3 linked regions of the Homo sapiens genome follow. The protein of the gene in region 2 purifies or fractionates together with the protein of the main gene of each other region. This does not show direct contact. Each region holds a gene or a part of one and is shown on either strand. Other genes may lie near its edges. The genes, in order: UTP18, WDR43 and APLF.

The links.
Region 1: the proteins of WDR43 (region 2) and UTP18 purify together in Homo sapiens (affinity purification with mass spectrometry; one large-scale study listed by BioGRID and IntAct). This does not show direct contact.
Region 3: the proteins of WDR43 (region 2) and APLF purify together in Homo sapiens (co-immunoprecipitation; one large-scale study listed by IntAct). This does not show direct contact.

What each region holds. Positions count from the first base shown.
Region 1 is NC_000017.11:51,284,471-51,288,137, reverse strand, and holds part of UTP18 (U3 small nucleolar RNA-associated protein 18 homolog), read right to left. Parts: intron 2,894-3,667; coding exon 2,770-2,893; intron 1,656-2,769; coding exon of another isoform or gene 1,379-1,655; exon of another isoform or gene 1,324-1,378; intron 110-1,323; coding exon 1-109. UniProt on the Homo sapiens protein: Part of the small subunit (SSU) processome, first precursor of the small eukaryotic ribosomal subunit.
Region 2 is NC_000002.12:28,901,158-28,904,824, forward strand, and holds part of WDR43 (WD repeat-containing protein 43), read left to right. Parts: intron 1-829; coding exon 830-967; intron 968-3,667. UniProt on the Homo sapiens protein: Ribosome biogenesis factor that coordinates hyperactive transcription and ribogenesis. Part of the small subunit (SSU) processome, first precursor of the small eukaryotic ribosomal subunit.
Region 3 is NC_000002.12:68,515,965-68,519,631, forward strand, and holds part of APLF (aprataxin and PNK-like factor), read left to right. Parts: intron 1-3,667. UniProt on the Homo sapiens protein: Histone chaperone involved in single-strand and double-strand DNA break repair.

The sequences.
Region 1 (3,667 bases), on a different chromosome or scaffold from region 2:
CAGAGAAGTAACACCTGTAACCAAGTTCATTATAGCTTTTATTGGCTTTGGGTTTGTTTCTTGGAGACAAGAATCTTGATTGTATATATTTACCACTCCACAATTAGAACTACAAAGAGAAAAGGATTAAAATAGATTAAAAACCAAGTAAAAGGGCTTTCACAACCTAAGTGAATATAGATTTAACCCCACAAACTGGTATTTACAGGAATCATGTTACAAAGAGACCAGCTATCACCACTATAGCCACAGATGTCCTATAGAACCTCCAACCAAACAGGTTGAAAACAGAATTCAAATTCTCCCCCTTCTGTTGACTTCTTGAAGGCTAAACTTTACTGACTCTTCTTGCATCCTGATTCCTTCACAGTCACCTCTTTCTCCACTGATTCTTGTCCCCAGGATTCTATTTCCAACCTACTTCTAGTGTCTCATTCATCTCATTTACTCCCACAGACCACCTATCACCCACCACATCCAAATCAGTGCCTTTAGTCCTAATTATGCACTGCATTCCTAAAGGTTTGTGGGGGTGGCCACATGCATATTATCTCTTCTAACACCATCACCCCTCCTCCCGCCTCCCTTCAATGACAATTCCACTCCTCTGGTTGCACAGGCCTGGAGCCTGAGAATGTGAATACTTCTCTCCCACTCCCCATCTTCTAAGCACTTATCAAATACATTACAAACATCCTTTGCTTATTCCCCCACTGCCATTCCTACTGTCCTGGTGACTCATTACCTGATGCCTGCCTATTGCTGCAGTGACCTCAAGGCTCATCTCCCTGTCCTTTCTTCCTCTTCTAAAAGCTTAAAGATTTGCTTAAGATTCTTTAAGAATAACTTGAAGATTCTAAAAGCTTAAATGGTTGTTGGCCAAGCACATCAGAAATCAATTACACTGAAGGGCAATTAAAATTAAATGAGTTTAAGCTACTAGTATTAGATTCTTTCCTATATAGGCCCTTCAAAGGGGGCTAATAAAAAGTGATACAAAAAAGAGAGGGCAATGAAGACTGGCTTCACAAATCTGAGTGAAGATCATTTCTGCGCAGTTTTTCTTGCCCCATATAGAGGCAAATGCAGTTCTTAAAACTACTTATAATGGACACAGGAAGGGGAACATCACATACCGGGGCCTGTGGGTCGGGGGGGGAAGGGGGAGGGATAGCATTAGGAGATATACTTAATGCTAAATGATGAGTTAATGGGTGCAGCACACCAACATGGCACATGTATACATATGTAACAAACCTGCACGTTATGCACATGTACCCTAAAACTTAAAAGTATAATAAAAAAAATTTAAAAACTACTTATAATGAGTTTAAACAGCAGTCTTCATTTTAAAGGAGCTTTATTCCCAGAAGATCTGCTACTCATGAATTGCTGCCATAGCGCACACTACCCTGGTAAATGCTTGGCTTGTGCTGAGATGTCCCTCGCTACAGGGTTGGCACGGGTATGGGTAGGAAAGGAAGGGGCCTTCATCAGGGCACTCTCCCTCCAAGGGATCTGTTACTGTCTTACTGCCTAAGGCAGATGGCCTGGTCTCCAAGCTCCACAGCCTAGTTCTACTTGCCTTTCCTCCCAAACTCCAATTTGCAAACGGTGGTAGGGATATATATACAAGCAGTTTCCCCAGTTTTAACCTGGAAGGAGAGAGTGAACAAAGAGTAGAGAGTATGCTAAGTTTCTGGACAACAAGACCCCTTGACTTCCCATCCCAGGGAGGATTTGACTGAAATCATTTCATGGCTCAATTGTGTTTGGTCTAAGAAAATCACAAAAACCTACTTCTTGAAGTTACAGAATTATGGGTTCTAATTAGTGGTTTAGTAAGGTAGCTTAGAATTACTGCGAAGTATCCAATGCCTCATCCTCTCACCCTGCATCTTCAGAATCAAGTAGTAGAACACAGCCATCTTTTCCCCAGTGTAATAACCAATGTTTTCAGTAATAGCACAGTACAATGTGTTCTAGATAATATTTTTAAAGTTTCTACAATACTATCAAATGGTATTTCCTAGGAACATGTTTTTTATTTATACCCCCAGCTGGATAAAGGAAAAATGCTTTAGGTATCTTTAAGATTTAAACCCAAAGTTACTTATTCTATCTCCTCATCAATGACAAGAAGCTGAAAATAATTATAGGAAAACTTGATGTGATCAAACAGGTATTTTAAATAGGAAAAAATACAATGATATAAGGTAGCGCCAGCATTTTCTTTGCTAAAAAGGTGTTCAACTGCAATTATAGTAATCCCTTCTTATCTGGCAGGGCGTATGTTCCAAGACCCCCAGTGGATGCCTCAAACTGTGGATTACTGAACCCTGTGTGTACTGTGTTTTCTCCTATACACACATCTCTATAAAAAAGTTTAATTTATAAATTAGGCATAGTAACAGACTAACACAACTAATAATAAAACAGAACAATTGTAACAATATATCCTAATAAAAGTTACGTGAATGTGGTCTCTTGCTCTCAAAATATCTTACATAGATTTCAGATTGTGATTAACCACAGGTAACTAAAACCACAAACAGTGAAACTGCAGATAAGGGGGGAACTACTGTAATATTATTATTCAACACTGCACAAAGATGATAAAATGAAAAAAGCTCAGCTGGGTTGACCAATTTCATATTACTGAATAGTTTATAAAGAGAACTACTCATGCACCACCTAGTATATTCAATTCCTCAACATATTCTCATTAGCACAATGTGATTAAGGTTACAAGAACCTCTCTTTACTTACCCACAAGCAACATACTGTCCATTCCTAGATGTGGCAATGCTTAATCCATATAAACTGCCTTCATCAACAAATCTGTTAAGGCACTTCCTTGAGTTCACATCCCAAACATAAACTTCTCCATCCCCTGCATAAAAGAGCGAAAAAAAGAGTTGTTAATTTTGCTTTAAACTTGAAAGGCAAGTAAACTGGCCACTCTCAGTCCCTCTTAACAGTACAGGAGACTACAAATACAGACCTATTATAACCCTCCTAGTTCTGGAAAACTGGACTAAGAATATTTCTTTTCTTTTTTCCTTTTTTTTTTTTTGAGATGCAGTTTTTCTCTTGTCGCCCAGGCTGGAGTGTAACTGCGCCATCTCAGCACACTGCAACCTCCTTCTCCCGGGTTCAAGTGATTTTCCTGCCTCAGCCTCCCGAGTAGCTGGGATTACAGGTTTGTGCCACCATGCGTAGTTAATTTTTGTATTTTTAGTAGAGACAGGGTTTCACCATGTTGGCCAGGCTGGTCTCGAACTCTTGACCTCAGGTGATCCACCTGCCTTGGCCTCCCAAACTGCTGGGATTACAGGTGTGAGCCACCATGCCCGGCCTAAGAATATTTCTTGTATACATTCACATATACAAAAGAAAACTGCATCAGTTAGTCATTAATAGACAGTACCTTTAGGTTTACAGGAAAAAAATCACAAGCTGTTGGTTTGAGTTGAACTTTTAGAAAAAGCTTCTAAGTTCCACTCAGATAAATTATTGAAGCAAAAATCTGAAGCAAAACAAAACACCACTCACTAGTGTAACTCTTCCAACATCTATCAACAGGTATTAGACTACCTAATAGGCAAGGTTAGCGATTTAGATACCAAAATGTTAATGATGATGGAAGAGGAAGAAGTGAAAAATG
Region 2 (3,667 bases):
GCTAAAAACATATAGGCTGGTGAGCCGTAATTTAAAAAAACACGGAAGAGAAGTTCTGAAATCATAATAAATACTCAGCATTATAAACTGATGTAGTGCTTTTAAGTTAGGGTCATTGTCTTTTTGTTGGGAAGACATGAGCTGTTAACATCACTTTTGAAATGAAAGAAGTCTTGTGGCATTTGCCACTTGAGTGAGACTTTTGTCTCTGAAGTCACTGAATCACTGAGCCAGCCCTTGACCAGTCAGTGGGGCAACTTCTCTCTTGTGTGCTCTGAGCTGCTCTACTAGTTAAAGCTATTTGTTGACTCAAATTGAAGTTAATGCACGTTTATAAAGGTAAAAACTTTTGAGGCTCTTTTCTTGACAACTAAGCTAGAATTTGTGGAAAAATTAGGAGAGATAAAGGAGAGTTGGCTGCTTAGATATGGACTTACGGATTCATAGATTTTTGGGTATGAATCTCTTTGGTTGGGGAGTGAAGGCTTCGCTTAGGTTGGACCTGTCAGGAGGGGCGGCCTGTTTCTGAGAAGTGGAAACAGCATTGAGGCTTCTTGGACCTGTTAGGAGAGTACCAAGAACATACTAGGTTTTCCTATTTGCTGCCTTTTTTCCATAGGGGTGGGAGACGGGGGACATAGAATTACGAGTTTCTCTTCCCATTGGAGGGATTTCTTTTTGAAGTAGTGAGAAGTAAATCACCCAATAGCTTCTCTCTTCCCCCCTTTTAAAATGTCTTTTGTGGGCTGGTGGGCATTTGTATTTGTTCATTAACGATGTTTTAGTATTTGCAATACTAAATAAAAACATTGTTTTTCTTTTTTTCCAGGAAAGTCCCCAGAGGAAAAAAAGGAAATCAGAAGCTGTAGGAATGAGTAACCAGACTGACTTATTGGCTCTTGGCACAGCAGTTGGTAGCATTTTATTATACAGCACAGTAAAAGGAGAGTTACACAGTAAATTAATAGTAAGTGTGTGTATATTTTATTTAAAAGTGATGTGACAGGGAAGCTGATTATTAGAGATTATTAAAAAAAAAACACTTCAAGGTATGTGATGGGATCTGTGCAGTAGGGACAGTTTTCAGTCTCATCTACGTTTAAATAACTGAATAGTAATATTTGATAAAAGCTATAATAGTTAACAGCAGTCCTTATTATGGGTCAGAGTATGAAGACTTATTGACTAGGTTTAAAATAAGGAAGGGTTACAGGAACTCTAAGGAATCATAGATAGCAGCTGTGGAAAGCAGCTCCCCACCTCTTGACCTAGGGGAATAAAGGAGGCAGTTGAAATTACTGCTAACACTGAGATCTTTTAGGGGCAAGTGTTGTGCTGCTGTTGCTGTCTCTTGAAGAGTGGCCCCATGGGCATGGGATCGAGACTTCAAACTGAGAAGGAGGCTCCAGCTGCCTGGTGCTAGTGTCTCTGATGGAGATGATGAGATTGGTTCTCCTAGGGTTGGATAAATTGGATATTGGGTTCAGCTGCTGCTGTTGGGCATTACCACTGTTGGGGTGATGCAAATAAAGAGACAGGAAGGAACAAGTCCCTTCTCTCTCCATCCTTGTCTCCCTCTAGCAGTTGCTATTGGTAGAACCTATGGATCGAGCTGGGAAATCAGAAATCAGGTTGCTGAGTCCCAGCATCACAGCAGAATATAAAGGATGGTTTGGCATTGGAAGACAGTAACCGAACTGGTCTAGTAGGTTCAGACAATATCTATTGCAGTGTGTTTTTGTTCGCTGGACTTCTGTATATAGGAGTGTTTTAAGTTTTTTGTTTTAAATAACATTTGTCTATAGGAAATTTGTAACTACATAAAGTTGAAAAGGAAAAAAATTTATACCTAAGTCTGTCGCCGAGAGGTCCTCTTAATAATTTGTATATTTCTTTGCTTTATACATACATTAAAAAAATATAGTTGGCTTTCTGTTCATCTAGTTTGTATCCTGATTTTTTTCATTAGATTACAACATAACTATCTTATATTTGTCAATAACTGGTTATAGAGATTTTTAGTGACTGCTTAAAATCCCAACAAGTGGGATAGTCCATTATGTTACTTAACTTGTTGACCATTTAGGGGTTTCCAGATTTTTAAATTGTTGTAAAACAATTTCTTTTTCTTACATGGATTCACAGAATTACTAACCTAAAATTAGTGAGCCAAAGGGTTGCTATATATGTAGTATAAAAATACTTTCTGGAATAATTTTTACTAATTTATGCTTAATATCAGTGATAGGAGATAAGTACTTTATCTCAGCAGTATCATTACCACTACTGAATAGCCCAACAAAACAGCAACAACGACAACAAAGAAACAGCTAATTTGGTAGAGGAATATTTTAATCTGATTTTAAGTTTGCATTTAGGAATGTATTACTTGTTTTTATATTAAGATTACAAAAATAATACTCAACTATAAATGAATTTTAAAGCATTCAGAGATCCATCTCAAGAAAGCATTCTTCCCTATATTCTTCCCCCCTCCTCCAAGTCGAGTGTGGTCCTCAGGTGAGCTCTTACACCTACTATAGGTAGGAGCCTATCCTTTAATTGGATAGGTTTTTTGTGTTCAGCAGGTACCTAGCATCTTGTGCAGTGTGATAGCTGCTCAGCTGCTGTGGCTGCTGGAGCCTAGAAGACTTATTTTTTTTTAAAGACAGAGTCTCACTCTGTCGCCCAGGCTAGAGTGCAGTAGTGCGGTCTCAGCTCACTGCAACCTCTGCCTCCTGGGTTCAAGTGATTTTCGTGCCTCAGCCTCCTGAGTAGCTGGGATTACAGACGTGCACCACCATAGCTGGCTCATTTTTGTATTTTTAGTAGAGATGGGGTTTTGTCATGTTGGCCATGCTGGTGTCGAACTCCTGGCCTCGTGTGATCTGCCTGCTTGGCCTCCTAAAGTGCTGGGGTTACAGGCATGAGCCACCATACCCAGCCTAGAACTCCTTTTTATATCATTTCACAACCTTACAAGATTGTAAATACATCTTCGACAGGGATGAATTTATCAAAAAGGAGTCAAGAGGGTCAGGGTGAGGGGTACTGGGATGGTATGGTAAGGTGGAAAAGGACCAGGCTTTGGAGCTAGTCTGTCCTGAGGTTGAATCCTACTAGTTGTATGATCATGTGTGAATAATTTAACTTCTCATCCCTTAAATGGGTATTAACAGCCTACCTTGCATGATTTTATTAAGACTTAAATGTAATAATGTATTGAAAGTGCCTGGCTTGTAAGTGGTATTTAGTAAATATTTGTTGAATGAGTAAGTGAACAAGTGAGTGAACACATCGCTAAATTGCTTTCCAAAAGGGTATGCTAGTTTACACTGCTGCTGGCAATAGTATTATGTAACCTCACCAGCATGGGCATCATAAGGCTAAACACATTGCTACAGGAACAGACTAAAAATGCCACTTTGTTTTGGTTTGTATTTCTTTGATTACTAACAAGGTTGAATATTTTGGTATATTTTCTAACTGAATTCTTTCTGTGGAATGTATCTGTTCATATCCTTTAGTTACTTGCGTGTATATAAGACTTAGTTCTTGGAGTACACAGCTGATAGGAAGGAAGGAAAGTAACTGAATGTAACATTTTAAAATATTTTTCTTTTGAAGTGGTAACAATGTTATTTCCAAGTAGCTTTAGTAATTTTGA
Region 3 (3,667 bases), about 40 Mb from region 2:
TTTTTAAAAATTAATTCGCAGGATGCATTTTGGTTTATTCAGACATGAGTAACTTTCATATGTCTTTTGCAGCTTTAGGACCATAACTGTGGTTATTGGTCTTTATGTAGATTATCTGAAACTAACTTGATATTTTGGAACCTTTGGAATCCTTAGGAACAGGACAAATAACATGAATTCATGTTATTTGACTTATCCAAGATCATATAATAAATGCCAGAGCTGTAACTGAGACCTAGCTCTGACTAACTTTAAAGCCCATGTACTAAGGCATATCACTGTATAGCTGCCTAAATTTACTCTTTATATGTTTGGTTTTTGTTTGCCTTTTTTGATCTGCCCTTGCGATCTCTCCTGGATCATCTCTCAGTTTAACTCTTTAATCCTTTATATGTAGGGGAATTTTTGCTGTTGTCAGGCTTTTTCATTTTTCAGCCAATACAGTTTATTATTATTATTATCATCACTATTATATATATATTTTTTATTTCAACAGGTTTTTGTGAAACAGGTGGTGTTTGGTTACATGGATAAGTTATTTAGTGATGATTTCTGAGATTTTGGTGCACCCATTACCCGAGCAGTGTACACTGTACCCAGTTTGTAATCTTTTATCCCTCACTCCCCGACCCTTCCTCCCAAGCCCTCAAAGTCTGTGGCATCATTCTCATGCCTTTGCATCCTTATACCTTAGCTCCCACTTATAAATGAGAAAATACAATGTTTGGTTTTTCATTCCTGAGTTACTTTACTTAGAATAATGCTCTCCAATTACATCCAGGTTGCTGCGAGTGCCATTATTTCATTCCTTTTTATGGCTGAGTAGTATTCCATGGTGTATTTGTATATATATAGAGAGAACAAATCTGGAGGCATCACGTTTTATATATATAATATATATAATTATATATAATGTTATATATAATATAATAATATATTATATATCCTATATAACATTATATATAATATATAATATAATATATATAATATAATATATAATAATATAATATAATATAATTATATATAATAATATATGTTAATATATAATATATAATAATATATTAATATATAATATATAATAACATGTTATTAATATATAACATGTTAATATATAATATGTTATTAATATATAATATACTAATATATAATAATACGTTATTGATCTATAACATATTAATATATGTTATTGATATATAATATATCAATATATAATAATGTTATTGATACATAATATATTAATATATGTTATTGATATATATAAATATATTAATATATGTCATTACTATATAATATATTAATATATGTCATTACTATATAATATATTAATATATGTCATTACTATATAATATATTAATATATGTCATTACTATATAATATATTAATATATCATTACTATATAATATATTCATATAGTAATATATGTTATTACTATATATTAATATATCTATATATTACTATATATTAATATATCTATATATGTTATTACTATATATTAATATATCAATGTTATTACTATATATTAATATATCAATATGTTATCACTATATATTAATATATCAATATATGTTATTAACATATGTCAATATATGTTAATAACATATAACAATATATCACTAATATATGTAATTAACATGTAACAGTATATCACTAATGTTATTAACATGTAACAATATATCACTAATATATGTTATTAACGTAACAATAATATATCACTAATATGTTATTAACATGTAACAATAATATATCACTAATATATGTTAATATATAACTAATATATCACTAATATCTACTGTTAATATATAACAGTAATATATCACTAATATAATGTTAATATATAACAGTAATATATCACTAATATGTGTTAATATATAGCAGTAATATATCACTAATATGTGTTAATATATAGCAGTAATATATCACTAATATGTGTTAATATATAGCAGTATTATATCACTAATATGTGTTAATATATAACCGTAATATATCACTAATATGTGTTAATATATAACAGTAATATATCACTAATATGTGTTAATATATAACAGTAATATATCACTAATATATAATAATATATAACAGTAATATATCATTAATATATAATATATCATTAGTATATAATATTAATATATATTAATATATAATATATCATATACAATATTAATATATATTAATATATAATAATATATTATTAATGTATAATAGTAATATAATATATTATCAATATATATTACTAATATATAATAATATATCGTTAATATATAATAGATCATTAATATATAATGTTAATATATTATGAATAGATAATATATCAGTATATAATATTAATATATTAATATATTATATATTATTTAATAATATATAATATATTAATAAATAATTATATATTAATATAGCAATATATTAATATATGACTGTATTATATTATTAATATATAACAATATATTATATATTATATAATAATTTATTATATAATATATAATAATATATTATATATTATATAACATATTAATAATACATAATAACATTAATAATATATAATAATGTTAATATATTATTATATTATATATTAATATATAATAATATATCAATAATGTATCATGAATATATAATATATCAATAATATATCATGAATATATAATATATCATTAATATATCATGAATATATAATAATATATCATTAATATATCATGAATATATAATAAATCAATATATCATGAATATATATCATTAATATATCATGAATATACAATAATATATCATTAATATATCATGAATATATCATTAATATATAATAAAATATTAATAATATATCATTATATAATAAAATATTAATAATCTATCATATAATAAAATATTAGTAATATATCATTAATATGTAATAAAATACTAATATTATGTCATTAATATGTAATAAAATATTAATATTATATCATTAATATATAATAAAATAATAATATATCATTAATATTAATATATTATATAATATTATTAATAATACATAATAATATGCTATTAATATACAATATCTGATAATATATTATTAATATATAATAATATATAATATATGATTAATATATAATAATATAATATATAATTAATATATAATAATAATATAATATATAATTAATATATAATAATATAATATATAATATATAAAACATATAATTTGACATTTTATATATATATAAAGACTTGACCAAAAATTGGACCAATGTGACTATATATTTATAATATATAAATATATATTATCTATATTTATTACATAATATATTATATATTATATATCATTTATATATAATATAATATATTATATGTATATTGTATATATAAAATGTCAAATTACTCTCATTTGTATTTTCAAAGTGAAGTGCCCAAAAACATGATTCATATTTTAAGTGGTACATCTACCAAGTGAAAGAAAATGTATTTGAAATGAAATACATGTTGAACTATTATAAGCAGTAGCAAAGAAGCAGTTGCAGTACAAAACAATTCTGAAAGAAAAGGAGTTATTTGCAGGGACCAGTTCACATTGGTTCAATTTTTGGTCAAGTTAAGTCTTTCTTTTATCAGAGAAATTATTCTACTGAGGGAAAGTGTCTGCCCCTCCCCACTACGATTCCCCATTTCCTTCCTGCAAATTGAGGATCAACACATACAGAGATGT